Linked DNA regions of Homo sapiens: regions 1, 2, 3, 5, 6 and 7 are each linked to region 4. Evidence: fine-mapped expression QTL. A gene starts in region 4. Each other region holds a variant in brackets. All regions are shown on one strand. Distances are between the middles of the regions.

Region 1 (4,067 bases), 140 kb after region 4:
ATTTTTTTTCCCCACGTTGTTAGCTGCCACATTACTTGTGGGTATTTGTGCACCATTTTAGATGCCTTTTTAAAAATATCTTAAATTCTTAAACTGTTATCCTTTTTTGAATTTAATATTCTAATCCATTTTCTATAGAATCATTGTGTATCCTGTTTCCTGTGTCGCAGTATGTTTTTTATTGAAATATAATTTACATACCATAAAAATTCACCATTTTTAGCTGTATACTTCAGTGGTTTCAGTATATTCATTATGTTCTGCAACCATCACCACTATCTGATTGCAAAACATTTCCGTCAACCCAAAAAGAAACCCTGTACTTATTAGCAGTCAGCCCCAATTTTCTCCATCCCCCATTCCCTGGCAACCACTGTCTACTTTCTGTGTCTATGGTTTTGCCTATTCTGGATATTTCGCCTAAATGGAATCATACAATATGTGACCTTTTGTGTCTGGCTTCTTTCACTTAGCATAATGTTCTCAGGAGTCCTATCAGTACTTCATTCTTTCTTATAGCCGAGTAATATTCTATTTTATGGCCGTACCGCATCTTGTTTATCCATTTATCAGCTGATGGACATTTGGGCTGTTTCCACTTTATGGCTATTACGAATAGTGGTGTTGTGAACATTTATGTACAAGTTTTTATGTGAACATGTGTTTTATTTTTCTTTTTAAAAAATTTTCTAATCATATAGTCTTGACATATTGAGATACTACAAACACTATTTGGTTATTTGGTAGCATTACAGAGTAAAGTTTACTTATATATAGGAAATATATATGTAAGAATGAATTTGGGGGTTATGATTTATGATTCATAGCAAAATTACCTATTGTTGTGAACATGTTTCACTTCTCTTGGGTGTACACCTAGTAGTGGAATTGCTGGGTTGTACGGTAATTTTATGTTAACTTTTTTAGGAACTGCCAAACTTTTTCACACTAGCTGCATGGTATTACAATCCCACCAGCAGTATATTAGGATTCTAATATCTCTGCATCCTTGTGTTACATGTTACTTGGTTTTTCATCATTTATAGCCATCGTAGAGGATATGAAGTGGTATTTCATTGTGGTTTTGATTTGGTTTTCAATATACTCTTGCAACATAATTTAAGTGTATTTGTTCTGTAATTGTTTCATGATTTGCTTAGCCAGTTTCTCTCCTTGACCTTTAGGTCATTTCCATATTTTTGTAAGAAATTTTTGGTAATTGAATTTCATTAGTATGGGCTTTTTTTCTCGGTGGTTATATCAGAGAAATATAATCAGCTTGTTCACCTAGCCTTTTGTACCTGTTTTTTAGTATCTGTTCAGTTGTCCCTGAATAGTGGTGGCATTTATGAACTTTGTCACTGCTCAAGGCACGCACCATACAAAATACACAATCAGCTATGGTGTCTGGCCAGAAAGACTTGATGTCTAAAATTAGACATTTGGAGACTGGTTAGAGGCATAGGGAAAAGACAGGAACATAGTAGATCAACTCTGATATAATGTAAGGAATGTGGGAGGTGTTTTCAGGGTCTGGTGTCTTATACGGTGTTGAAGTCTTGAAGATAAATCAGGCATTGGCACCCAAGCTGCACTCTGGTACATTCTGTGCTGTGGAGGAAAGTGCATTTCTTGGCTATGAGATGGCAGTGATTTGATCTCCTGAAGCTCAAATTCCCATGTCAGGAAACTGACCTACAAACCCAGGACTACGGGGGTCTTAATGACTTCCATGGCAGAATTCTCTGTGGCTAGTAATCAAGATAGTTTCTGAAGCTGGCACAATTCCCTCGTTTGTAAAATGGTGTTAACTATTTTTTGTTAACCTTTTATAAATGTTGTAATGAAGACAGAATTACACTCTTTTTCAAGTGCTACATAAATGTCCATGGTCTTCATAATTGGAAACATTCTGATTCTTTAGAGGCAACAGAACAGTTTGGTTAAGAGGACAAGACGGCCGGGCACGGTGGCTCACGCCTGTAATCCCAGCACTTTGGGAGGCCGAGAAAGGCAGATCACGAGGTC[G/A]GGAGATCGAGACCATCCTGGCTAACATGGTGAAACCCCGTCTCTACTAAAAATACAGAAAAATTAGCCGGGCGTGGTGGCGGGCGTCTGTAGTCCCAGCTACTGGGGAGGCTGAAGCGGGAGAATGGCGTGAACCCGGCAGGCGGAGCTTGCAGTGAGCCGAAATAGTGCCACTGCACTCCAGCCTGGGCGGCAGAGCGAGACTCCGTCTAAAAAAAAAAAAAAGGACAAGACTCTGGAATTAGACTGCCTGAGATCAAATTCCAATTCCATGTAAGTCTCAATCTCTTAGTTTCCTCATCTTTGTTAAAAAAAAAAAAAAAAAAGGCGGGGGGCTAATAATAGTACCTACCTCACAAGGTTGCCGAACACTTAGTGCCTGGCATATAGAAAGAACTCTGGAGATGTTTGTTAAACTTAGTGATAGAGTGTCCACCCAGTGTGTCTGAGAAGGAAATATGTAGGAAAAGTTCACAAATGAAAAATGGTTTTAAATAAGAACCAGGTCGTTGTGGCTGTACGATTGTAAGTTTCGTCTTAGACATGTTACGTATGAAGGTTCTTTGAACATTCAAGTGGAGGTGTTAAGTAGGCAGATAAATTTGATATATAGGACTGGCACTTACAGGATAGATCAGATATATTTAGATCATAATTGAAACTGTAAGCATGTATATAACTGCCTGGGGAGCGTAGAGTTGAGAGTTAGAAAATACGTAGCCTTGAGGAACTCCAACATTTAATGGCTAACTGGAATATGTTGGGTCTGCAAAAGAGTCTAAGAAGAAATGCTCCCTTAAGTGAGAGCTGTTTGGGTGGAGAAATGGGTGGGAAGCCATAATGGGGAGGGTTGAGCTATACGTGGGAAATGAAGTGGAGATGGCAAGGACAGACATCTCTTTCAAGATGTTTGTTCGTGAGGGAGAGAAGAGAGATGGGAAAGGAGATACCTAGAGCAGGATATGGAAGCAAGTTTTGTTTTGCGTTTACAAGTTAGTATCTCTGTCTCTCTCTCTCTGTCTCTCTCTCTTTCACTCTCTCTCTCTCTCTCACACACACACACAGAGAGAGAGAGAGAGAGAGTTTTTAAGTATCATTCACATAGAACCTGTAACTTTTTTTTTGAATCTGTAACTTTAACAGCTTCTAGCTAAATATGTCTATAAAGTCTCCAACTGAGGTCCCTAAGCAGACTTATGCAACTATGCACCATACAAGTATAGACTAATGGAAGAGGCATTATCCTTTTATTTGTAGAAACTCATAAATGGTATTCCTGGGGAGATTTGATCATCTTATTTTTTGATCCATAAGCCAGAGTACAGGGTTCTAATGTAGTTCACTTGAATATTTTGCCAGGTTCTGTGCTAGGTGTGTAGGATTCAAAGATAAAAACGATACAGACCGTACCCTTAAGGATCTAACAGTATAATACATATATTCCTAGCATGAAATAATACAAAAAAACCACATCACACTGGAGAAAGACCTTATGAAAAAATAATAATAACCACGGCATGTTAAAGACTTGATATGTGCCAGGCATGGGGCAGAGGGCTTTGCATATGTTCATTACATAATTTAATTCTCACAGCCATCCCACAGTTAAATACTATTTCCTCCACTTTGTCTTCCTTTTTTAATTTATTTTTTATTTTTTGAGATGGAGTTTTGCTCTTTTGCCCAGGCTGGAGTGCTGTGGTGCAGTCTCCGCTCCCTGCAACCTCCGCCTTCTGGTTTCAAGCGATTCTCCTGCCTCAGCTTCCTAAGTAGCTGGGATTACAGGCGCCTGCCACTACGCTCAGCTAATTTTTGTATTTTTAGTAGAGATGGGGTTTCATCATGTTAGCCAGGCTGGTCTTGAACTCCTGACCTCATGATCTGCCCGCCTCGGCCTCCCAGAGTGCTGGGATTACAGACATGAGCCACTGCACCTGGCCTTTTATCCTAATTTTTTTTAAAATTGAAAACTTGAGGATTAGAAATGTCAAGTAACTTTCCCATACCTAGTTAGTAACAAATGGGATTTGAACTCTGAT
Region 2 (4,067 bases), 110 kb after region 4:
TTGGTGCATTCACAAACCCTGAGCTAGACACAGGGTGCTGATTGGTGTATTTACAAACCTTGAGCTAGATACAGAGGGCCGATTGGTGTATTTGCAATCCCTGAGCTAGACATAAAAGTTCTCCATGTTCCCACCAGACTCAGGAGCCCAGCTGGCTTCACGCAGTGGATCCCGCACCAGGGCTGCAGGTGGAGCTGCCTGCCAGTCCCGGTGCTGTGTGCCCGCACTCCTCAGCCCTTGGGTGGTCGATGGGACTGGGCACCGTGGAGCAGGGGGTGGCACTTGTCGCGGAGGCTCGGGCCACACAGGAGCCCATGGAGGGGGTGGGAGGCTCAGGCATGGCGGGCTGCAGGTCCTGAGCCCTGCCCCGCAGGAAGGCAGCTAAGGCCCGATGAGAAATGGAGCGCAGTGCCAGTGGGCTGGCACTGCTGGGGGACCCAGTACACCCTCCGCAGCTGCTAGCCCGGGTGCTAAGCCCCTCATTGCCTGGGGCCGGCAGGGCCGGCGGGCTGCTCCGAGTGCGGGGCCCGCCAAGCCCACGCCTACCCGGAACTCCAGCTGGCCTGCAAGCCCACGCGCAGCCCTGGTTCCCGCTGGCGCCTGTCCCTCCACACCTCCCTGCAAGCTGAGGGAGCCGGCTCCGGCCTTGGCCAGCCCAGAAAGGGGCTCCCACAGTGCAGCAGTGGGCTGAAGGGCTCCTCAAGTGCCGCCAAAGTGGGAGCCCAGGCAGAGGAGGTGCCGAGAGCAAGCGAGGGCTGTGAGGACTGCCAGCACACTGTCACCTCTCAAAAGTACAGTAGTATAGTACCTGATGCTGTTTTTTAGAGGGATTTAGGCATGCCAATGACTTTAGGGAGCTGCCGGTGGATTTTTTTTTAAGAGTTCTTAGTAGAATACTACTGTGAGTTTCTTATAATATTATTAAAATACCCGTCCCAGAAATGAGACAGATTCTGCAGGCTATATTCAAGGTAGCCATTAGGCACTGGGTAAGGCTCTATTTTTTTCATCAAAACTTGGAGTAAATTGTATAAATAACATTAAAATCATTAAGACGTTGAGGAATAATGCATGTTTTAATGCCATTGAAAAGAGTTCCAAAGTGATGATGAATTTTTTGTTTGTTTGTTTTAGACCTGCTCTATCGCCCAGGCTGGAGTGCAATGGCGTGATCTCGGCTGACCGCAGTATCTGCCTCCCGGGCACAAACCATCTTCCCACCTCAGCCTCCTGAGTAGCTGGGACTATGGGCACACACGTCCACAGCCAGCTAATGTTTTTGTATTTTTGGTAGAGTTGGGGTTTCGCCATGTTGCCCAGGCTGGTCTCGAATTCCTGTGCCCAAGTGGTCTTCCCACCTCAACCTCCCAAAGTGCTGGGATTACTGGCATAAGCCACTGTACCTGGCTGACAATGAATTTTAAATAAGGATGTTTCTGAGTTTATGTTGTATCTCTCTCTCTCTCTTTTTTTTTTTTTTTTTTTTTTGAGACAGAGTTTCGCTCTTGCTGCCCAGGCTGGAGTGGAGTGCAATGGCGCAATCTCAGCTCACTGCAACCTCCGCCCCTGAGTTCAAGCCTTTCTCCAGCCTCAGCCTGCCGAGTAGCCTGGATTACGGTCGCCTGCCACCATGCCCAGCTAATTTTTTTTGTATTTTTATTAGAGACGGGGTTTCGCCATGCTCACGCCTGTAATCCCAGCACTTTGGGAGGCTGAGGTGGGCAGATCACCTGAAGTCAGGATTTTGAGACCTGCCTGGTCAATATGCTTTATCTCTTTCTGGGACTTTGACATAAGAAGAGATTTCCAAAGGTTGTATTCTGCTAATGTAGTCTGGTATTTGAGAATGAGATATATCAATGCTCACATTTTATAAGGATGACTTCATCCTTGATATGTGCTACCCCAAACATTGCAGTCGCAAGTGCATGCACAGAATAAGGGCCAGTTTTCAGTGACTACCGTATCACCATACGGAACTTCTCATGCTTGAGAGAGCCACTGGTAGCCATCTACCTTTCCTTTCCTTGTCAGTATAAATTTGGGGGATACAAATATAATTTTGTTACATGGATATATTGCATAGTGGTGAAATTAGGGCTTTTAGTGTATCCATCACCAGAATAATGTACATGGTACCCATTAAGTAGTTTCTCATCATCCACCGCCCCCAACCCTTCCAAGTCTCCACTGTCTATCATTCCATACTCTATGTCTATGTGTACACATTATTTAGCTCCCACTTGTAAGTGAGAACATGCGTGTACCCAATTTCTTTTTT[C/CTTTT]CTTCTTTTTTTTTTTTTTAAGACAGAGTCTTGCTCTGTCATCCAGGCTGGAGTGCACGGGCACGATCTCGGCTTGCTGCAACCCCTGCCTCCCAGATTCAAGCAAACAGATTCAAGCAATTCTCGTGCCTCAGCCTCCCAAGTTGCTAGGATTACAGGCCTGTGCCACCGCACCAGGCTAATTTTTGTATTTTTAGTAGAGACGGGGTTTCACCATGTTGGCAAGGCTGGTCTCAAACTCCTGGTCTTAAGCCATCCACCTGCCTCAGCCTCCCAAAATGCTGGGATTATAAGCATGAGCCCCTGCACCCAGCTGGTGTGTACCAAATTTCTGACTTTAAAGGAAGGGCAGTTATTTGTTCCCTGAAAGTTGAGCACAAAAAGAAGAAATAAGCTTTAGTTTCCAGTGATTAAGGATTTGAAAAATAGTTACTGGTAGTTCAATTTACTTTGTTTTTTAACTATGCCTGTTCATGCTGATCACGTACAGGTTATCTCTATCTTGTCACTGGAATTGGATTGTTTCTCATTGGCTTAATTAAATTTATTGCACAGGAAGAGTCTTCCTGGAACATTTAAGCTATACCTGATTTATTAACTACAGCTCTCTCATTTTCTTATAAATTAATTAAGAGTTTGATCTACCATTCCTCTTCTGAAAAGAAAACAGTGTTTCTCTACCTTTTTGGTAGAAGAGTTACTAAAAAAAAACTAGCTATTATTTGTCTCTTTTTTCAACCTGGCAAAGCACAGTATATAAATATTGTTTGTTTTATCTATAACCAAATTTAATTGCCTTGGAATATTACTTTTTGCCAAGTCTACTGCCAAGTTAATTTTATTAGGGTATAATTAACAGTCGTCAAAGAAAAGCTACTTAATTTATTTCCACAGGAATTCAGAAGAAAAAAAGAATATGGGTTTAAAACCAATTACTTTCCTTTAAAATTGTAGGTAAAATTCAAAGTCGCATATGTTAAAATTTAGAACACAGAAGTAGAAATGATCAAGTTCTGCCAGCTCATTGAATAGACTAACCCTCTTTTCCATGTCCTCTGTACCTCTGTCAGAATGTTTGCTGTCATTTGTATGTATGTGAGCCAGGAACAGTGGGTTGTACAAAACAACTTCAGCATCACCATAAACTTCAGAGAAATCATGTTTCTCACAACAAAGCAGCTCTGTGCATGGCCTTTAGTTGGCTGCCTGGAAAATGACTGCACTCGACAACTGCCAGGTCAATGTAGACGTTCATGTTAATTTTTCAAGTTGGGAAACAACATGCCTATTGTTAGGGGATAGAAACGTGAGAGATTAAGCAATGAGCAACTTTACAAGCGACTAACTGAAGGAAGCTTGATTCAGTAAGAAGGGAGAAATAGTAGCTTCACTTACCATTATTAGTTTATTGCTTCTGCTACTCAGAGAAGCTGGAGGAGAGGAGAAAATAGATCTGGTCGATATTATTTCAGGGCTAGTTGGAAAGAGAATAAATGCACAAAGGAGCTTGCTTGGAGAGATGACCCCTGCATGTGAATGTTAGAAGAGCTATGTCTGCAAGGTATGAAGCTTCATTGGATTTATTTGTATTTTTAAAAAATAGAATATAGTAAAATGACCATTTATAAGGAGTATTTCAGGACACATCATTTGCCAGTTTGAACTAAGTGTTATTAAACTTAATGTTTTAAATAGATATAGTTGAGAGTGCGAATATAAAAAAAATAGGACAGGAAAGATGTTTTTTGTTCTAGCTATTTTATTTCTTATATAATCTTGATACTTA
Region 3 (4,067 bases), 30 kb before region 4:
TTACATTGCCCAAGCTCCTAGTCTCAAGCAATCCTCCTGCCTCAGCCTCCCAAAGCGCTGAGCTACCGCACCTGGTCTTGACTTTTTTAGTTGGTCATGACAAGAATGACCCAATTCATATAATTAACTTTTTTTTTTTTTTTGAGACAGAGTCTCGATCTTGTTGCCCAGGCTGGAGTGCAATGGTGTGACCTCGGCTCACCTTCACCTCCACCTCCCAGGTTCAAGTGATTCTCCTGCCTTAGCCTCCCAAGTAGCTGGGATTACAGGTCCCCGCCACCACGCCCAGCTAATGTTTTTGTATTTTTAGAAGAGATGGGGTTTCACCATGTTAGCCAGGCTGGTATCAAACTCCTGACCTCAGGTGATCTGCCCGCTTCAGCCCCACAAAGTCCTGGGATTACAAGTGTGAGCCACCACACCCAGCCAATTAACTTTCATCTATCTTTTGTTACTATATGTTTTCCTTCCCACAATTTGCTGCCCCGAGAGACTCAAGGTCCTTTTCCTTTGTCTTGTCACTTCTCTAAAAATTTATAGTTCCTTTGCTAAGATGCCATATAAAAACAAGTTCAAAACAAACCTTTGAGTTACTCTTCTCTGGGTACTCCATATTGCGTATTCTGTACATATGTTAATCAACTTCTATTTGTTTTTTCAATTGTTAATCTTTTTTGTTGTTATGTTAATCTGTCTTTTGTCAGTCTAATTTACAAGGCCCCAGCTGAGAACGTAAGATGGGTAGAGGAATTGATTTTTCCTCCCCCACAGCGAGACCATCTTTTTTAATTTTTAGAGTCAAGTTCTCACTCTGTTGCTCAGGCTGGAGTGCCGTGGCATGATCATAGCTCACTGCAGCCTTAAACTCCTGGGCTCAGGTGATCCTCCCACCTCAGCCTCCCATGTAGCTGGGACTACAGGTGCACACCCCCATTCCCAGCAAAGTTTAAACAAATTTTTTTTTTTTTTTGAGACAGAGTCTCACTCTGTCACCCAGGCTGGAGTGCAGTGGCGTGATCTCAGCTCACTGCAACCTCCACCTTCCTGGTTCAAGCAATTCTCCTGCCTCAGCCTTCCAAGTAGCTGGGACTACAGGTGCGTGCCCAGCTAATTTTTGTATTTTTAGTAGAGACAGGGTTTCACCATATTGGCCAGGTTGGTCTCGAACTTCTGACCTTGTGATCCACCTGCCTCGGCCTCCCAAAGTGCTGGGATTATAGGCGTGAGCCACCACGCCCAGCCTTAAACAACATTTTTTTTAGAGACAAGGTCTTGCTATGTTGGCCAGGCTAGTCTCAAACTCCTGGGCTTAAGCACTCCTCAGCCTCCCGAGTAACTGGGATTACAGATGTGAGCAACTGTGCCTGTCTGTCTTCTTTTTAAAGGATGAATAATATTCCACTGTGTGTACATACCACATTTTCTTTATCCATTCATGCCTAGATGGACATTTAGATTGTTGATAAGAGTGTTACTTTCCTCCTGATATTGGAAGGACATCTTCCAAATGGAGATTTTATCTCTTGTTTTCAGGAAGAAAATGGGGAGGGTCAGAGTGAATTTCTTTTCCCTGCTGGTTTTGTAAGTGCCTTTAGCTCAAAATAGTCCTTATACCAAAGTGGCATATTTGGGGTAGTGTGTTCTGAGCTCCTTCAGCATACTTAAAGTTCAGGAGAAAAGACACAAGAGAATGTAGGTGAGCAATTCTGAGATAGCTGACTATTTTCCAAAATTGAACAAAAGACACAAACTTGAAATTTGGGGAGCACAACAAATCCCAAGCAGGCTTAAACAAAATTCAATATCTGGACACATTGTAGTTAAACCACGTGACACTGTTATCACTGTCACACACATCTGTGTGAAGAGACCACCAAATAGGCTTCATGTGAGCAATAAAGCTTTTTAATCACCTGGGTGCACGTGGGCTGAGTCCAAAAAAGGAGTCAGCAAAGGGTGGTAGGATTATCATTAGTTCTTATAGGTTTGGGATAGACGGTGGAGTTCGGAGCAATTTTTTGCAGGCAGGAAGTGGATCTTACAAAGTACATTCTCAAGGGCGGAGAGGATATTACAAAGTACCTTCTCAAGGGTGGGGAGGGTGTATCGTACAAAGTACATTCACAAGGGCGGGGGAATATCACAAAGTACATTATTGCAAGGGTGGGGAGGGTGTCTTGTCACAAAGTCAATTGATCAGTTAGG[G/A]TGGGGCAGGAACAAATCACAATGGTGAAATGTCATCAGTTAAGGCAGGAACTGGCTATTTTCTCTTCTTTTGTGGATCTTCAGTTGCTTCAGGCCATCTGGATGTATACGTGCAGGTCACAGGGCATATGATGGCTTAGCTTGGGCTCAGAGGCCTGACAATCACCTGATGGGTTCTTCTTGCTCACTGCACAGACAAAACCAATTCACTGAGATCATACTATTGCAGTAGAGAAAGAGTTCAATTAACAGTCCTAGCAGGAGCATGGATGTTATTACTCAAATCAGTCTCTCCAAGAACTCAGAGGCTAGGGTTTTAATGGATAATTTGGTGAGCTGGGGGCTAAGGAAGGGGGTTGCTGATTGGGGATGAAATTACAGGGGTATGGAAAACAGTCTTTATGCACTGAGTATGCCCTTTGGGTGAGGGCCACAGGACTAGTTGACTCATGGTCACAGGTCCTGGTGGGGTCCAGTGGTTGCCAGAATGCAAAAGTCTGAAAAACATCTCAAAAGACCAATCTTAGGTGCTATAGTAGTGATGTTCTCTACAGGAACAATTGGGGAAGTCACAAATCTTTGACTTCTAGCCACATGACTCCTGAGCAGTAAGGGATTATAGAAACTACGCCTACATTTAGCAGAATTCGGGTTCTTCCCATAATCCTAATCTCATAGCCTTCCATTAGTTTTACAAAGGTGGCTTTACTCCCTAGCAGGGCAGAGGTTAGTCTGAGGGTGGGGTTATTATCATCCTTTCTTTAAAGTTAAACTCTAAACTAAATTCCTCCCACGATTAGCTTGGTCTGTGCCCAGGAACGAGCAAGGACAGCCAGCCTGTGAGGCTAGAAGGAAGATGGAGTCAGCCATGCTAGACTTCTCTCACTGTCATCATCTTTGCAAAGGCGGTTTCAACAAAAAGGACAAATATCTGAAAAGCAACTAGAGTGTTGGATTACTTAAATCATTTTCCTGAGGAACAGCCCTCAATGCCTTCGCTTTGCCTGGTTAAAATTAGGGTATTCCCCAAATTTCCGAAGATCATGGCATATTTTCAAGAAAACAAAAATGGAATAAGACTAATAAGTAGAAATTTAGCCTGGCCAGGCTGGGCGCGGTGGCTCACGCCTGTAATCCCAGCACTTTGGGAGGCCAAGGAGGGCAGATCATGAGGTCAGGAGTTCGAGACCAGCCTGACCAACGTGGTGAAACCCTGTCTCTACTAAAAACACCAAAAATTAGCCGGGCATGGTGGCACACGCCTGTAATCCCAGCTACTCGGGAGGCTGAGGCAGTAGAATCGCTTGAACCCAGGAGGCGGAGGTTGCAGTGAGCCGAGATCGTGCCATCGCACTCCAGCCTGGGTGACAGAGGGAGACTCTGTCTGGAAAAAAAAAAAAAAAAAGAAATTTAGCCTGGCCAACATGGCAAAAGCCCATTTCTACTAAAAATACAGAATAAGCTGGGCATAGTGGCACATGCCGGTAATCTCAGCTACTCAGGAGGCTGAGACACAAGAATCGCTTGAACCCTGGAGGCAGAGTTTGCAGTGGGCCGAGATTGCACCACTGCACTCCAGTTTGGGTGGTGGAACAAGACCCTGTCTCAAAAAAAAAAAGACTAATGAGTAGAAATTTCTAGTTTCAATGGCTGTGTGATGTGTGATACAGCTGGCATGAGTAAACTACTTCTCATATTTGATTTTTAAAAGGGCATTGGATGATGAAAATTAAACGGTATTTATACGACACTGTCCAAGAAGAAACACGAATATTCTGGGCCACTAGAGACGTCTGCAGTATGTCAGGGGAGCGATGTTCTGTACCTGGATAACACTTCCTTCTAGACATTCTACTCACTAT
Region 4 (4,067 bases):
TGGCCAGGCTGGTCTTGAACTCCTGACCTCAGGTGATTCACCCGCCTCGGCCTCCCAAAGTGCTGGGATTACAGGCGTGAGCCACCGCGCCCAGCCTGGATGCACATTTTATCATGCCCACTTCCCGGTCCAAACACTGGCTGGCCCTATTAGAGCAGTGTTCCCTGTCGCCCCAGCCCTGGTGGACACAGACACTTCAGCCACGACACACATGAAAGGATAAATGCAGGGCGACAAATAAGGGCAGAGATGAGCCACTGCCAGTATAGAGCTGGAAGGCCACTGAGTTAACTAAAGGGTCCAGATGAGAGGAGGCTTAGTTTCAAAAACTTCCTGGAAAAGTACGTTTTGAGCAGAATTTTTTTTTTTTTTTTTTTGAGACAGAGTCTCGCACTGTCGCCAGGGCTGGTGTGCAGTGGCGCGATCGCGGCTCGCTGCAACCTCCGCCTCCCGGGTTCAAGTGATTCTCCTGCCTCAACCTCCTAAGTAGCTGGGATTACAGGCGCCCACCACCACGCCTGGCTAATTTTTTGTGTTTTTCGTAGAGACGGGGTTTCACTATGTTGGCCAGGCTGATCTCGAACTCCTAACCTCGTGATCTGCCCACCTTGGCCTCCCAAAGTGCTGGGATTACAGGTGTGAGCCAACGCGCCCGGCCTTTGAGCAGAATTTTAAAAGTACGCTACCTGGATTGGGGAAGAGAAAACCCGGGGCTACACGTAGAGGGAAAGTTTAGTGTTGAATCGGAGAATCTGCTTTCCCTCTCGAAGCCTACGATGTGCAGCTCAGATTTACCCAGAGAGGCAAAGAGGAAGCGCTGGAGGTTTCTAGGCAAGCAGGCACCGCCCTGTTTTTATCACACGGAAAATATGTCTCCTCCCGCTAGTCTGTGTCGGGGGCCCCCGCAAGCCCCGCGTTACTCCGCGCGGGCTTGGGGCACTCACACGGAGGACTCGTAGGCCAGGTTGACCAGAAGGCAGTCCGCCAGGCTGAGGTTCATGAAGTCACACATGCCGCGGATCTCGCCGGTGAAGGGCTGGGGCAGGAAGCGCTCCAGCTCCAGGACCACTTTTCCGATTAACACGTGCACCCACTTGGGGACTCTGTCCCTAGAAACAAAAAGCACAAGGGCGTCTGACCCGCTCAGAGGTCGGCGGCGTGCGACTGCGTGTGCACTGCGAGCGGGGCTACATCCTTAGGGCGTGAGGTCTCAGGGCCACTGCTCCCCAGTCAGTGGACCGCCCAGGCGCGGCGTCACTCAATCTGCAGCCTCCCGGGAGTGGGGGGAAGGGGGCGGGGGGAAGGCGGCGGGTAAGAAAACTCCGAATGGGGAGGGCGAGTGAGGCTGGTCCCAAAGGGGCAAGCTTGGAAGGCCCGCGAGGCCCGCAAGGAAGGCGCGGGTTGCCCCTCCTTGGTAGCTATGCAGCCCGGGCGACAACTCGCGCGCCACGCTGACCCGGAATGGCTCAAGGACTGGCGTGCCACGGGTGACACCGAACTTGAAAGCCGAACCTGCCGCGCTGGATTCTCCCCAACCCGGACGCTGCTCAGGGCGGCAGCCAAAACCAGTTCTCCAAGGGTGGCGGGGAGTAAAGCGTCCCCGTTTAAAGCACTCTGAGCAGCGCGCGTTTGACTCCGACCCGCAGGGCCGGTGTCCCCGCAGACCCCGTCCAGGGCCCCAGCTCACCCGATGACTTGCGCCATCGCGGCGCGCACCAAGTCCAAGTCGTAGTGCCGCAGCACGGGCAGCCAGCGCAGCTCGGGGACCGAGTCCAGGCTCACGTTGAAGCGCGGCGCTGCTGGGGGCGAGGCGGCTGACAGCCCGGCCCCGGCCAGCAGCAGCAGCAGCAGGGACGGAAGCCCCGGGCGCGCCTCCCGGTCCGCGGTCCGCATGGCTCGGGCTCCAGCGGCCGCAACTTGGAGACCTGCAGCCGCTGTCGGAGCCCGGGTAAGCCGTGGAGGAGGAGGAGCTGGGGCTGGGCTGCGATCGCTGGAGGTGGGGCCCGCGCACGACCCGCCCGCCCCTGTCACCGGCAAGCCGGAGCGGCGACACCTCCCGTCCCCGCCGCGCATCCACTAGCCCGCCCCGACTCTCCATCGGGCCTGGAGGTCCCTGACCGCGGGGCCGCTAAGGGTTGGGGCTGCCGGCAGCCGGCTTCTCACCAACTGCCGGTTCCAGCGCACCTGCTTGGGCCGAAGGAGTGTAGGCTGCGGCCGGGAGGGGCTGTAAGATTTTCAGTAGCGAAAAGGTGTCAGGAAAGACTTTTCAGTTAAACTTTGTTTGCTTGTTTGTTTGTTTGTTTGAGATGTAGTCTCACTCTATTGCCCAGGCTGGAGTGCGGCGGCGAGATATCCGCTCACTGCCAACTCCGCCTCCTGGGTTCAAGCGATTCTCCTGCCTCAGCCTCTCAAGTAGCTGGGATTACAGGCGTCCACCACCATACCTGGCTAATTTTTGTATTTTTGGTAGGGACAGGGTTTCACCATGTTGGCCAGACTAGTCTCGAATTCCTGACCTAAGGTGATCCACCGGCCTCAGCCTCCCAAAGTGCTGGGATTACAGGCGTGAGCCACCGCGCCTGGCTGGTAAAACATTTTTTTAAAGCTCAAAATTTAGTGAACATTTATCTGCTAAATATTTTTCGCGGACATTATCTCATTTAATCATCAAAACAAGCCAACAGGTAGGTTCCACTAATCCTCGCTTTACTGATGAGGAGTGTGAGGCTTGGAGAGGTGAAGCCATGTACCCGAGGTTACTCTGCTGGTGTGTCTCTGCACTGGCCTCCAAGTAAGGAGGTCTGAATCCACAATCCACCTTCACACCTAAGTTTCTTCACCTTTGAGTTCCCAATGTCTGGGAGACAAACTTAGGAAAATCTTAGTAAGGCTGGGACATTCTTAACGGTTAGCACAGTTGTCTGTGGGTAAAACAGGGTACATGTGTACATGAATAGTAGAAACTAAATGAAAGGGCCGGGCATGGTGGCTTAGGCTTGTAATCCCAGCAGTTTGGGGGGCTGAGGCGGGTGGATCACCTGAGGTCAGAAGTTTGAGACCAGCCTGGCCAACATGGTGAAACCCTGTCTCTACTAAAAATACAAAAATTAGCCGGGCGTGGTGGTGTAATCCCAGCTACTTGGGAGGCTGAACAGGAGAACCTCTTGAACCTGGGAGGCAGAGGTTGCAGTGAGCCGAGATTGTGCCAATGCACTCTAGCCTGAGTGACAAGAGCAAAACTTTGTCTCAAAAAAAAAAAAAAAAAAAAAAAAAAAAAAAAAAAAAAAAAAAAAAACTAAATGCATAGTAGAAACTAAACACATTTTTTTTTTATTTTTTACCAATTTTAGGATGAAGAAATACAACTTTTATAATCAATCACTTGTTTTTAAGGATAACACTTAAAGGAATTACAAAATTTCTTGCCAGACATGGTGGTTCACGCCTGTCATCCCAGCACGTTGGCTGGCTGATCATCTGAGGTCACTTGGTTTAATGAATAGAATCAGAATTGCTGGTGGTTGACTTCCAAGACTAGGTCACAAAAGACACTGTGGGTTTCTCCTTGCTCTCTTGAATTGCTCACTATAGGAAGCCCATTGTCATGTCCTGAGGAAGCCCTATGAAAATGTCCCTTTGTGGCTGGACACAAATCTCAGCACTTGGAGAGTCAGGCAGGAGGACTGCTTGAGCCCAGGAATTGGAGACCAGCCTGGGCAACAGTGAGACCCCATCTCTACAAACAAATAAAAATAAATTAGCCGGGCATGGGGGCATGTATCTTTAGTCCCAGCTACTTGGTAGGCTGAGGTAGGAGGATTACTTGAGCCCAGGAATTTGAGGCTGCAGTGAACTATGATCACGCCACTGTACTCCAGCCTAAATGACAAAGTGAGACCCTGTCTCCAAAAAAGAAGTAAATAAAATTGAAAAAAAAGAAAAAAGAAAGTCCCTTTGTTGAGGAACTGAGCTTCTACCAAGAGCCAGAGAGGAACTGAGGCTTCTTGTCAAGTCATCTGAGTGAGCCATGGTGGAAGTGGACCTTCCTGCCTCAGCTAAGCCACCCC
Region 5 (4,067 bases), 36 kb before region 4:
ACTTTCCTTAGGATATAACCTAATCTGTGGTTAATCACTATTCTTGGACAACTTACTTTTTCAGTTAATCTAAGATGCTCGTGTGTGTGTTCTGGTAGGTACTAAATGCACCATGGAAATTCTCAAAGAAAGTGATATTCTGTTTGTCTATATCTAGTAGGTCAAGTTTGTTCATTATTATTATTATTATTATTATTATTTTGAGACAGTCTTGCTCTGTCGCCCAGACTGGAGTGCAGTGGCACAATCTCAGCTCACTGTAACCTCTGCCTCCTGGGTTCAGGCAATTCTCATGCCTCAGCATCCCGAGTAGCTGGGATTACAGGCACCCCCGCTGCCATGGCCAGCTAGTCTTTCTATTTTTAGTAGAGACAGGGTTTCTCCATGTTGGCCAGGCTGGTCTCCAACTCCTGGCCTCAAGTGATCTGCCCACCTCAGCCTCCCAAAGTGCTGGGATTACAGGTGTGAGCCTCCACACCCGGCCTAAATTTGTTAATTATATTAATTCAGATCCTCTTTATCTTTGTTTATTCTTCCTGATCTGACCATCTTTGAAAGAGGTATTTTGAAGATTTCTATGACAAGTACAGATTTAGCAAATTCTCCTTGTATTTGAGTCTTTGCATTACACGTTTTGAAGCTATATAATTAGATATTAAATTTAAACCATGTAAAATTGCCATCGGCAACTGTGTAATTACACATGAAGCCGTATTGTCATTTAACTGTCTTGGTAGAGGGTGACATAAAAATTAAATATCACTCTGCCTTTTAAAATTCTTTTTGCATTTGATTCTCTTTTGTCTGATATTAACATTTTCACATTAGCTTAGTTTTTGTTAGTGGCTGACTGCTAACATTCTTTCTCCAAGTTGACTAAAAGACTGATAAAATCCTGTATTACTGAGAGTATGAGAAAAAGGACCCTCTCCATATACTATTGCTGGGATCGTTAAAATGTTTCATTTTGGGGGAATTAAATTAAATTTTAATTGTAATTTATTAAATTACATACTTAAAATATGTAAATCCTTTAATCTAGAAATTATACTTCTAAGTATCTTACAGAATTATACACCCATGCAAAAATCTATATAAGGATTTTTATTACTGTATAATTTGTGATTAGGAAAAGTTGGAAAATAACCTAAGATATTTTTTTATGTGGTATTACCCATATTTTCTAGTTTCCATATTGATGCTTTGACATTTTGGGGCCTTGTTGACCAGGGAGAGACTACACCTCCTGGGATTAGCTGATCCCTGAGATGCAAACTAACCAATCTAGAGCCCTACCACCAAATCCCTCCTTTTTTGGACTTTCATACTCAAGGCCGTTATCTCTCTACCCTAATCACCCTGACATCATATATCAGACAACTCAGTGCAGTCTACAGTCAGGAGTCAGCTGACACTATTCCAACTAGCTAGTCCTCCACCTGCTTAGCCGCCTTACCCTGCCTCACCCATTCCTTCCCTCGAAAACCACAGTTCTCCTGTCCTCTGCCTGTGACCAACCTCAGTGTTCTCTCCCGTGGCTGTGCAGGTGTGACCTCTCCTCTTGGGAACGAGGAGTAATAAGCTATCTTTTAAATGGCAATTGTCCCCTGATCTGTTGGCCTTATCATACCTGAATAAAAATAGAATCTACATTTTAAAACGTTTATGCATTTTTAAATGTCTTAATGAGTACAGATGGCAGTTATCACTAGGGGTACTCATGGGGAGAGTGCCATCCACAAGTGGGGAAGAGAGGCAGAGGATCACATTATGTACTGTTTGATTTATTTTTATATTAGAAATCTGTTACTTGTGTTCTTATTATTATTATTTTT[T/A]TTTTTTTGAGACAGAGTTTCGCTCTTGTTGCCCAGGCTGGAGTGCAATGGCGCAATCTCGGCTTACTGCAACCTCTGCTTCCTGGGTTCAAGCGATTCTCCTGCCTCAGCTTCCTGAGTAGCTGGGATTACAGGCATGTGCCACCATACCTGGCTAATTTTTTATTTTTAGTGGACACAGGGTTTCTCCATGTTGGTCAGGCTGGTCTTGAACTCCTGACCTCAGGTGACCCGCCAGCCTCAGCCTCCCAAAGTGCTGGTATTACAGGCGTGAGCATGGTGATGCCCAGTCACTTGTGTACTTTTTAAAAACAGAATATTTTGAAAACCAGCTCTCTCCATCTGCCATGAAAGCTCTGTAGGCCAAGCCATTTTTATTTAAAAATATATATATATTTTTTGAGAACGGGTCTTACTTGCCCAGGCTGGTATTTGCAGTGGCACAATCACAGCTCACTGCTGCCTTGACCTTCCCGGACTCAGGCAATCCTCTTGCCTCAGCCTCCCAAGTAGCTGGGACCACAGGCATGTGCCACCATACCCACCTAATTTTTGTATTTTTTGTAGAGATGGGGTTTTGCTATGTTGTCTAGGCTGGTCTTGAGCTCATGCAATCCACCTGTCTCGGCCTCCCAAAGTGCTGGGATTACAGGTGTGAGCTGCTGCGCCCAGCCAAAATTTTTTAAATAAAATTTTCAATTTTATTTATTTATTTATTTATTTTAGGCCAGGCGTGGTGGCTCATGCTTGTAATCTCAGCACGTGAAAGGCCGAGGTGGGTGGATCACTTGAGGTCAGGAATTCAAGACCAGCCAGGCCAACACGGCAAAAGCCTGTCTCTACAAAAAATACAAAAAATTAGCAGGGGATGGTGGTGTGTGTCTGTAGTCCCAGCTATTGCAGTGAGCAGAGATCACACCACTGCACTCTGGCCTGGGCAACTGAGTGAGATGCTGTCTCAAAATAAAAAAATAAATTTTAACTTTTTAATTAAAAAATTTTATTGCCTCTTGTTTTTAAAATTTATTTTATTTTGGTAAGAACACAACATGAAATCTACCCTTTTAACAGATTTTCTTCTTTTTTTGAGACAGGATCCCACTCTGTCACCCAGGGTAGAATGCAATGGCATGACCACAGTTCATTGCAGCCTCGACCTCCCAGGCTCAAGTGATCCTCCCACCTCTGCCTCTTAAGTACTTGGGACTACAGGCACACATCACCACTCCCAGCTAATATTTTTATTTTTGTAGAGACAGAGGTCTCACTATGTTGCCCAAGCTGGTCTCAAACTCATAGACCCAGGCAATCTTCCTGATATGAACAGGAGACGGGGAAATACTGGAAAGTTATTTATTTTGTTTGATTTATTTACCTGCCAAAAGCCCCACCCTCAAGCCTGGAAACCCGAGGCCCCAAATGGGAACAGGCATTCCTGTTTTCGTGCCCAAATGTTGCATCTTGGCCCGCCACACCCCACATCCTGTACCCATATAAACCCCGAATCCCTGGGTCCATGAGGAGATGAGCAGAAGAGCCAAAGAACTGAAGAACGGCATGGCAGAGAAGGAGCATCTGAATATCTAGAGGAGTCCAGCTGGGGACAGTTGGAGAGGAGTTCTGCCACAGGACTGCTGAACTCCAAGGGAAGATCATCTTTCCACTCCGTCCCCGTTCCAGCTCCCCATCCATCCTGCTGAGAGCCACCTCCACCACTCAATAAAACCCCCATATTCACCACTCTTCAAGTCTGTGTGTAACCTGATTCTTTCTGGGTGCTGGACAAGGGCCCGGGTACCAAGGGGACACTGAGCTGGTTAACACTTAAGCCATCTGTGGATGGCAGAGTTAAAAGAGCACTGTAGCATGCCTACTGGGGCTTCAGGAGTCAAAGCACCACCCCTAGAAGCTGCCCTGGGGCCAGAGCCCAAAAGCGCTCACTCTGGTTCCTGCACCTGCCTGTCTGTATCCTCCCGCTCCTATAAGGGGTTTGAGCTTGTGGCAGCTGAACAGAGATCAACACCCCTGTTGAGTGTCCTGCAAGGGGAGCCAGGGAACTCTCCTGTTTCACCCCCACCTCCGCCTCCTAAAGTGCTGTGATTATAAGATAAACCACCACGCCTGGCCTCTTAACAGATTTTTAAGTGTACAATAGGCACGACGTACAGATCTCTAGAAGTTATTCACCTTGTATAAATGAAACTTTACACCAGTTGAATGGCAACTTCCTAT
Region 6 (4,067 bases), 22 kb before region 4:
TTTTTTTTTTTGAAACAGAGTCTCGCTCTGTTGCCCAGGCTAGACTGCCATGGCATGATCTCAGCTCACTTGCAGCCTCGACTTCCCAGGTTCAAGCAATTCTCCAGCCGCTGCTTCCCAAGTAGCTGTGATAACAGGCGTGCACCGTCATGCCTGGTTGATTTTTGTATTTTTAGTAGAGACGAGGTTTCACCATGTTGGCCAGGCTGGTCTTGAACTCCTGACCTCAAGTGATCCACCCGCCTTGGCCTCCCAAAGGGCTGGGATTACAGGCGTGAGCCACCGCACCTGGCCTGCTTTCACTTAAAAAAAAAAAAAAAAGAAAAAGAAATTAAAAAGAATGTGAGTAAAATCCTAGGCTATACACTAGAGAAACCATTGCTCACAGAATGCTGCTATCAAGGGTACAGGCTAAAAAAGAACATTAACTAAGCGAATTGTCAGTGGAACAAGGAACAGCTTCGGAGATAGTGGAAATTCCTCCGGAGGATAAAAGAAAACCAAAGGTATTCAGAATTTATTTCTAAGGAGCTCCTAACAGGTGAAGGCTGTCCACAGCTACCTGACTGAGTTAGGATGAACACCTCACTGCCAGAATATTTCAAATGTAGGAATCAAGAGGTCAGCCAGTCAAAGTGTTTTTCCTTCTAGTTTGACAACACTATGGAAGGCCAAGTTTGAATTTAAGATTCCCAGAGCTGGCCGGGCGCAGTGGCTCACTCCTGTAATCCCAGCAATTTGGGAGGCCGAGGTGGGCAGATCATGAGGTCAGGAGATCAAGGCCATCCTGGCTAAAACGGTGAAACCCTGTCCCTACTTAAAAAATACAAAAAATTAGCTGGGCGTGGTGGCACGAGCCTGTAGTCCCAGCCACTTGGGAGGCTGAGGCAGGAGAATGGTGTGAACCTGGGAGGCAGAGCTTGCAGTGAGCCGAGATTGCGCCACTGCACTCCAGCCTGGGTGACAGAGCGAGACTCTGGCTCAAGAAAAAAAAAAATTCCCAGAGCCTCCTTCAGGGTCACTCTATTCTTTTTACCTTTGGATTTCTTCATGGACTTCTCACCTGATTTATATTTGTTTATCACCACCACCCCCACCCCACCCATATTAGTCCCATGAGAGCAGAGACTTTGTTTTGCTCGCAGCTGTACCCACAGGAGTGCCCCCACAGGAGTGCCCCCACAGCCTGGTTACAGGAGCCCTCAGATCCTTGCTGAGCCAAACAGTACGTGAGTGAGTTCACTGTTCTGGAGTGATGTGTGAACAGACATGTTTAACAAGCCACTTACTTGTTATAAACTGGAACCACCGACAAAATCTGCATAGGAAAAAGTCATTTTATAGAGAAGATTACATGGTAGAAGAAATACACATAGAATATCTATGGAGGGCCGGGTGCAGTGGCTCAGGCCTGTAATCCCAGCACTTTGGGAAGCCGACGTGGGAGGATTACTCAAGCCCAGGAGTTCAAGACCAGCCTGGGCAACATAGAGAGACCCTGTCTTTACTAAAAAAGAAAAAAAAAGAATGTCTGTAGAAAGAACATAACCACTCTTTAGTGTACCTTGAGGTGATATAGACTTTTTTTTTGAGACAGTCTTGCTGTGTCACCTGGGCTAGAATGCAGTGGCATGATCTTGGTTCATTGCAACCTCCGCCTCCCAGGGTCAACCGATTCTCCTGCCTCGGCATCCCAAGTAGTTGGGATTATAGGCACACACCACCAAGCCTGGCTAATTTATATATTTTTAGTAGAGACGGGGTTTCACCATGTTGGCCAGGCTGGTCTCGAAGTCCTGACCTCAAGTGATCCTCCTGCCTTGACCTCCCAAAGTGCTGGGATTATAGGTGTGAGCCACCACATCCGGCCTGACTTTTTAATTCTTTCTCTTTTTTTCTTTTAAACAATGAACATATATTACAACTATGACTTTTTCTTTTTAATATAAAGAAAAACTTTGGTGAAGATGGACATTTTAACTTATATAAAAGCAAGTTGAGAAAATGTCATATAATTTTTTTTTTTTTTGAGACGGAGTCTCGCTCTGTCAGGCTGGAGTGCAGTGGCGCAATCTCGGCTCACTGCAAGCTCCGCCTTCCGGGTACACGCCATTCTCCTGCCTCAGCCTCTGGAGTAGCTTGGACTACAGGCACC[C/T]GCCACTACACCTGGCTAATTTTTTGTATTTTTAGTAGAGACAGGGTTTCACTGTGTTAGCCAGGATTGTCTCAATCTCCTGACCTCGTGATCTGCCTGCCTAGGCCTCCCAAAGTGCTGGGATTACAGGTGTGAGCCACCACTTTTAATACATGATTTCAACCAAATAAAACTTTTACCCTAACGTTTTCATCTACCAGAAGATTTCACGGAGTTTTTCATATTCACTATTAACAAAACACCAAACATCCTAGGTATGCAGGACACTGTGACACAAGTTACCTGGAAAAGTGCCTCCAGGCTGAGGTTTGCTTGTCCTGTAGCATTAAGGGCCTTGATGGCAGATGTTCTGTAAGGACAAAGGTCGAAGGTCACTTGGCATTTCAACAAGCACTGAAGCCCATCAGCTGTCATTTTTGGGAGGCAGAATGCAAGCTCCAGTCTCATTATCTCCCTTTCTCCAAAACAGATTCTGGCCCCAAGCCTGTTTCCTGCTGAGGCCCAGCCCACCACAGTGGAATTCATCCAGCAGCTGGGACGGTTGGCACCATCTGCTCCAGAAAGCTGGGATGATGAAAATGTGTGGCTGCAGAACTGAACAGTGGCCAAACTTGTGGGGTAGTAAAGCCAAGGCAACGTATATAGCTACCTGCACTTTGGAACTGTGCTGACTTATAATTATAGAATGTTTACAACTTGAAGGGACAATAAAAACCCTTGACTGGTTTATTTATTGTTTAAATAAGGGAAATAATTTCCTTCTAAAAATATCTTGCCTAGAAGACCATGAACCTGGCCCTTTGCTTTCATTTTACAGACTGGTAAACAGAGGCCCGAGAGCCACCCAGTGAGTCACTAGCAGAGCTGGTGGTGGGCTCTAGGGCTCCTGACCCTGACAGCCTCCCAACACCCGCCCAGCTGCTGAGAGGCTCTGCCCACTGCTCTCCTCCACACAACACTCCCTTCCCAGCCAAGGCACTGGCGAAGGGGCTCAGGTACATTTTCTGGGAGAGGATAGCACCCATAGGTCTTGCCAGTTCCTGTGACAGAATGGGCATATTCTCCTGACCATAAGAAAACACTGCAAACCAGAAAGCACGTAGCAGCCTACCTCCGGTCATCTTCCTTGGGTGCTGGCTTCCAGTGGTCGTAATTTGTCTCAACTCGGAACCACCTACAACAGAGCACATCATCTTGTCTTATCCAAGGCAATTTACGACATAGCAGAGGAGACATATGAACAAATTTAAAATACCCCTCATTTCACCGATTAAAAAAAATGATTATCTGATACAAAATGACCAGAGCTTTCAATTCTACTTACGCTCCATTCAAAGGATCTAGAGGCCAAATGTCTGCTGGGCCATCTCTGTTCCTCGTGATGACCACCCCCTCCCGGGGGGACGTGCCACCAACAATGTAATAAACATCAGCAATAAGGGGAGTCTTGGCCAACTTGCCAACAGCTGCTTCGAAGTTTTCCGACTCACTCAGGGTCTGAACGAAAGGATGAACTTGCGTGAGCAACCCCACCTGCAGTTGGGTCCACACCAGATGATGCAAAAATGATCCAAAGCACATTCTCCTGATATGTTATGTCATGACTATCACCTTGATCTGCTCTGACCTTATCCTCTTGTTATCAGGGCTCCTAAGATGGAAGAAATTTCAGCTTCAAAGCGGAGCCAGGAGCAGCAGGAAATTCTGACAGGAGGAGAGAACTGTTGACAAGCCCTAGGCCTGGCTCAGCAAACACCGGCTGTGTGCTCTCCAGGCAGATCGCCCTCACAAAGGACTTTTTGTGCTTCTTCATTCATTTATTATTTAAACAGGGTTTTCTTGAATATCTACACTGTGCCAGGCACTGTGCTGGTGGGGGATAGAGCAGTGAATGAGTCGCCTGGTCCTATTC
Region 7 (4,067 bases), 81 kb before region 4:
AGCCATAGATTGTATATAGACAATCCAAACAGATAATACAGTCATGGGTATAACTGGAAAGAATCCTAGGTGGAGGCAGAAATCATGGGCTCCAGTCCTGGCTGTGTTAGTAACTTAGATCACATATACACAGCAAGTTCTCTAAACCTCAATTTCCTTAGTTTATAAATAAAATAAGGTTGTGGAGACAGCTTTGGATTGCCAAGACCAGCTTGGCTGGGGAGACCCTAACCCAGCAGCGCTAGAGGAATTAAAGACACACACACAGAAATATAGAGGTGTGAAGTGGGAAATCAGGGGTCTCACAGCCTTCAGAGCTGAGAGCCCTGAACAGAGATTTACCCACGTATTTATTAACAGCAAGCCAGTCATTAGCATTGTTTCTATAGATATTAAATTAACTAAAAGTATCCCTTATGGGAAATGAAGGGATGGGCCAAATTAAAGGAATAGTTTGGGCTAGTTAACTGTAGCAGGAGTGTGTCCTTAAGGCACAGATCGCTCATGCAATTGTTTGTGGCTTAAGAATGCCTTTAAGCAGTTTTCTGCCCTGGGCGGGCCAGATGTTCCTTGCCCTCATTCTGGAAAGCCCACCACCTTCCAGCATGGGCGTTATGGCCATGATGAACACGTCACAGTGCTGCAGAGATTTTGTTTATGGCCAGTTTTGGGGCCAGTTTATGTCCAGATTTTGGGGGGCTTGTTCCCAACATTGGATGTTAATTACATAAATGCATAGTAAAATATCATGGAAGCACTATCATTCACCTTTTGCATAAGTTAGAAATGATCCCACTAAAAGCTTATGAGTTTATGGTAGAATTGGTATGCCCAGTTCTGAAGAGCAACCTGGCAATACGTATCATGCCATTAAAATGTTCATACCTGTGATGGTTAACTTTACGTGTCAACTTGATTGAGCCACAGGATATTTAGATATTTGGTTAAATATTATATGTGGGTGTGTCTGTAAAGATGTTTCTGGATGAGATATGACATTTGAATCTGTAGGCTGAGTAAAGGAGATTGTCCTTGCCAAGGTGAGTGGACCTCATCCAATCTGTTGAAAGCCTGAATATAATAAAAGGCTGAATAAGAAAGAGTTATTTTTCTCTGTCTCACTGCCTTTGAGCAGGGACATTGGTTTTTTCCTGCCTACTCAAACATGAACTGGAACTGACTCCGTTGGATCTTCTGAGTCTCAGGCCTTTGGACTTAGACTGTAACTGACACCATTGGCTCTCCTGGTTCTCTAGCTTGCCAGCTGCAGATCTTAGGACTTTTCAGCCTCCATAATCATGTAAGCCAATTCTTAATAGTAAATACTTATGTAAATTTCATATTGGTTCTGTTTCTCTGAAGCACCTAGACTAATACAACATCCTTTGTCAAAGTAATCCCATTCCTGGGAATTTATACCACTAAAATGTAAAATTCAAAAGATTTGTGTAAAATAAGCTGTATGCACTATGTTATTAACTACAGTGTTTTTTTTTTTTTATTTTACTTTAAGTTCTTGGCTACATGTGCTGAACATGCAGGTTTGTTACACATATGTATACACATAGGTATACATGTGCCATGGTGGTTCGCTGCACCTATCAACCTGTCATCTAGGTTTTTGTTTTTTTTTTTTTTTGAGATGGAATCTCGCTCTGTCACCCAGGCTGGAGTGCAGTGGCGCGATCTCAAGCTCCGCCTCCCGGGTTCACGCCATTCTCCTGCCTCAGCCTCCCGAGTAGCTGGAACTACAGGCACCCGCCCAGCTAATTTTTTGTATTTTTTTAGTAGAGACGGGGTTTCGCCGTGTTAGCCAGGATGGTCTCGATCTCCTGACCTCGTGATCCGCCCGCCTCAGCCTCCTAAAGTGCTGGAATTACAGGCGTGAGCCACCGCGCCCGGCTGTTATCTAGGTTTTAAGCCCCGCATGCATTAGGTATTTGTCCTAACACTCTCCCTAGTGTTATTTCTAATAATGAAAAAGTGGAAATAATACACATGTTTAACAATTGGAGAAGGGCTGCATAGATTATAGCACATTCACTTCAAAGAAAATTATGCAAGCATTAAACTAATTATCATGAAGAATACAGAATCACAAGGGAAGCACATGGGAAAGGGTTTACAATTAGATATTAATTTATTTTTTTAAAAGTAGAACATAAAATTATATAAACACTACAGTAACAAGTAAGAAAAAGTAAATAATGAAGAAAATCCATATGCTTGGGTCATGGAATTACAATACAATTTTTAAAAATAACTTTCCTTTACCAATAGACATTGTTAAAGACAATAAATAAAAAGTATAAAATAGGCTGGGTGCGGTGGCTCATGCCTGTAATCCCAGCACTTTGGGAGGCTGAGGAGGGTGGATCACCTGAGGTTGGGAGTTCAAGACCAGCCTGACCAACATGGAGAAACCCTGTGTCTACTAAAAATACAAAATTA[G/T]CCTGGTGTGGTGGTGCATGCCTGTAATCCCAGCTACTCAGGAGGCTGAGGCAGGAGAATCGCCTGGGAGGCGGACTTTGCGGTGAGCCGAGATCGCGCCAATGCACTCCAGCCTGGGCAACAAGAGAGAAACTCCATCTCAAAAAAACGTATAAAATGAAAACAATGAGAGAGTTACATTGTCAGTGGTTCTTAACTGAAGTGGACTTTAGAATTTGAAAACACTATACCTAAGTTCTACTTTGTGAAGATTGTGAGGTGGGGTTGGGGCACTCATATACTTAAAACACATACATACACAACACCCCAACCCACCCCTCCACACTGAAATACACAGGTGATTCTGATGCATATGGATAGGTAAATTTTCAGCATAAAGTTTCACATGGAGAATAAGGGAGATAGTCTAGTGAGAAGCTGAGCATTGCCTATGAGGCACTTTGGGTGATGAAGACCAGGCTGTTCTTAGTGTGCACCTGGACTGCTGCAGCCACTGTCTTTAGCATTTGTAGCTTGTGGGCATTCTGAGGCATCGCCCTCTGGGCAGGATTTCTCCACAAGGCGGAAGGCCTCCAGGAACTCATTGATATCAATGTGGCCATCTTTGTTGAAATCAATGCTCCGAGCAAGGTCACAGATGCAGTCATCTGTAATGTCGATATTCATGTGAGAGCTGAACAGCTTCCAGGTCTGCCTGAACTCGTCCAGTGAGATGAACCCTTATCAGAGGGAGGAAATCACTTCAGTGAGTTAGTCTAGTTTTTAATGTTCATTTTCTCTGACATTCTTACAAGGACACCTGCTCCCTACTGCTCAACAGAGAGACACACAAATCCTAGTATCTAATTTAAACTCCCAAGAGGATCACACAAACCCACTGGCTCACCAATGATTTTCAGCTGGGAGTAATTGTGCTCCCCTCCCTCCAGGGGACATTTGGCAATGTCTGGAGACATTGTTGTTTGTTATGACTAAGATGGAGGTGAGGTGCTACTGGCATCTAATAAATAAAGGCCAGACATGCTGCCAAACATCTTATAATGCACAAGATGGACCCTAAAACAAAGAATTATCAACAGTACCACTGTTGAGAAACCCTGCATTTAATCATCTCAAACATATCCTAATTTATTCTGGCCATTAAAATCCTCTGGACCCCATACATCTATAGTCAATTGATTTTTTTACAAGGGTCCCAAGATCATTTAATGGGGAAAGAATAGTTTTTTTCAACAATGATGGGGGACAAGCAGATATTCACATGCAAAAAGAGTAAAGCTAGATACCTACCTAACACTATATAAAAAAAACTAACTCTATATGGATCAAAGACCTAAATGTAAGAGCTAAAACTCTAAAACTCTTAGAAGCAAACATAAGTGTAAATCTTTGTGATCTTAGGTTATGCAACAGTTTTTTTTTTTTTGAGAGGGAGTCTCGCTCTGTCACCCAGGCTGGAGTGCAGTGGCACAATCTCAGCTCACTACAAGCTCTGCCTCCTGGGTTCACGCCATTCTCCTGCCTCAGCCTCCCGAGTAGCTGGGACTACAGGCACCCGCCACCACTCCCGGCTAATTTTTTGTATTTTTAGTAGAGACGGGGTTTCACCATGTTAG

Which allele goes with the higher level. Alleles are on the strand shown, and positions count from the first base shown. SD is a standard deviation of normalised expression in the study named. Not every link is listed here.
With allele C in place of CTTTT in region 2, the expression in NK cells of the gene that starts at base 1,957 in region 4 is higher (large effect, 1.0 SD a copy in Schmiedel 2018).
For the expression in monocytes after triphosphate RNA of the gene that starts at base 1,957 in region 4, allele T in region 7 goes with a higher level than allele G (large effect, 1.2 SD a copy in Kim-Hellmuth 2017).

What was found. PIP is the estimated chance that this variant, and not a neighbour inherited with it, causes the effect.
Region 1: its variant is fine-mapped to the expression of NAAA in aorta (GTEx, PIP 0.98).
Region 2: its variant is fine-mapped to the expression of NAAA in NK cells (Schmiedel 2018, PIP 0.95).
Region 3: its variant is fine-mapped to the expression of NAAA in whole blood (TOPMed, PIP above 0.99).
Region 5: its variant is fine-mapped to the expression of NAAA in whole blood (TOPMed, PIP above 0.99).
Region 6: its variant is fine-mapped to the expression of NAAA in whole blood (TOPMed, PIP 0.95).
Region 7: its variant is fine-mapped to the expression of NAAA in monocytes after triphosphate RNA (Kim-Hellmuth 2017, PIP 0.95).

The regions. Positions count from the first base shown.
Region 1 is chr4:76,076,841-76,080,907 of GRCh38, forward strand. All of the region lies in intron 2 of ART3 (ADP-ribosyltransferase 3 (inactive)), which reads left to right. Among named protein-coding and RNA genes, the nearest start is that of ART3, 4.2 kb to the left of the region's middle. The variant G/A (reference allele first, on the strand shown) is at 2,029.
Region 2 is chr4:76,050,433-76,054,499 of GRCh38, forward strand. It overlaps a transcript of ART3 not described here. Among named protein-coding and RNA genes, the nearest start is that of CXCL11, 16 kb to the left of the region's middle. The variant C/CTTTT (reference allele first, on the strand shown) is at 2,282.
Region 3 is chr4:75,908,962-75,913,028 of GRCh38, forward strand. It overlaps a transcript of NAAA not described here. Among named protein-coding and RNA genes, the nearest start is that of PPEF2, 8.5 kb to the left of the region's middle. RefSeq lists enhancers at 1-633, 634-1,555. The variant G/A (reference allele first, on the strand shown) is at 2,206.
Region 4 is chr4:75,939,057-75,943,123 of GRCh38, forward strand. NAAA (N-acylethanolamine acid amidase) reads right to left here and starts at 1,957. Exons shown (of 11, transcript NM_014435.4): 1 at 1,688-1,957; 2 at 945-1,109. The coding sequence starts at 1,893. RefSeq lists silencers at 1,240-1,309, 1,710-2,179.
Region 5 is chr4:75,902,846-75,906,912 of GRCh38, forward strand. No RefSeq gene overlaps it. Among named protein-coding and RNA genes, the nearest start is that of PPEF2, 2.4 kb to the left of the region's middle. The variant T/A (reference allele first, on the strand shown) is at 1,836.
Region 6 is chr4:75,917,472-75,921,538 of GRCh38, forward strand. NAAA (N-acylethanolamine acid amidase) reads right to left here. Exons shown (of 11, transcript NM_014435.4): 6 at 3,480-3,652; 7 at 3,267-3,329; 8 at 2,438-2,504; 9 at 1,290-1,318. Among named protein-coding and RNA genes, the nearest start is that of PPEF2, 17 kb to the left of the region's middle. The variant C/T (reference allele first, on the strand shown) is at 2,156.
Region 7 is chr4:75,857,751-75,861,817 of GRCh38, forward strand. PPEF2 (protein phosphatase with EF-hand domain 2) reads right to left here. Exons shown (of 17, transcript NM_006239.3): 17 at 2,117-3,170. The coding sequence ends at 2,917. Among named protein-coding and RNA genes, the nearest start is that of PPEF2, 43 kb to the right of the region's middle. The variant G/T (reference allele first, on the strand shown) is at 2,452.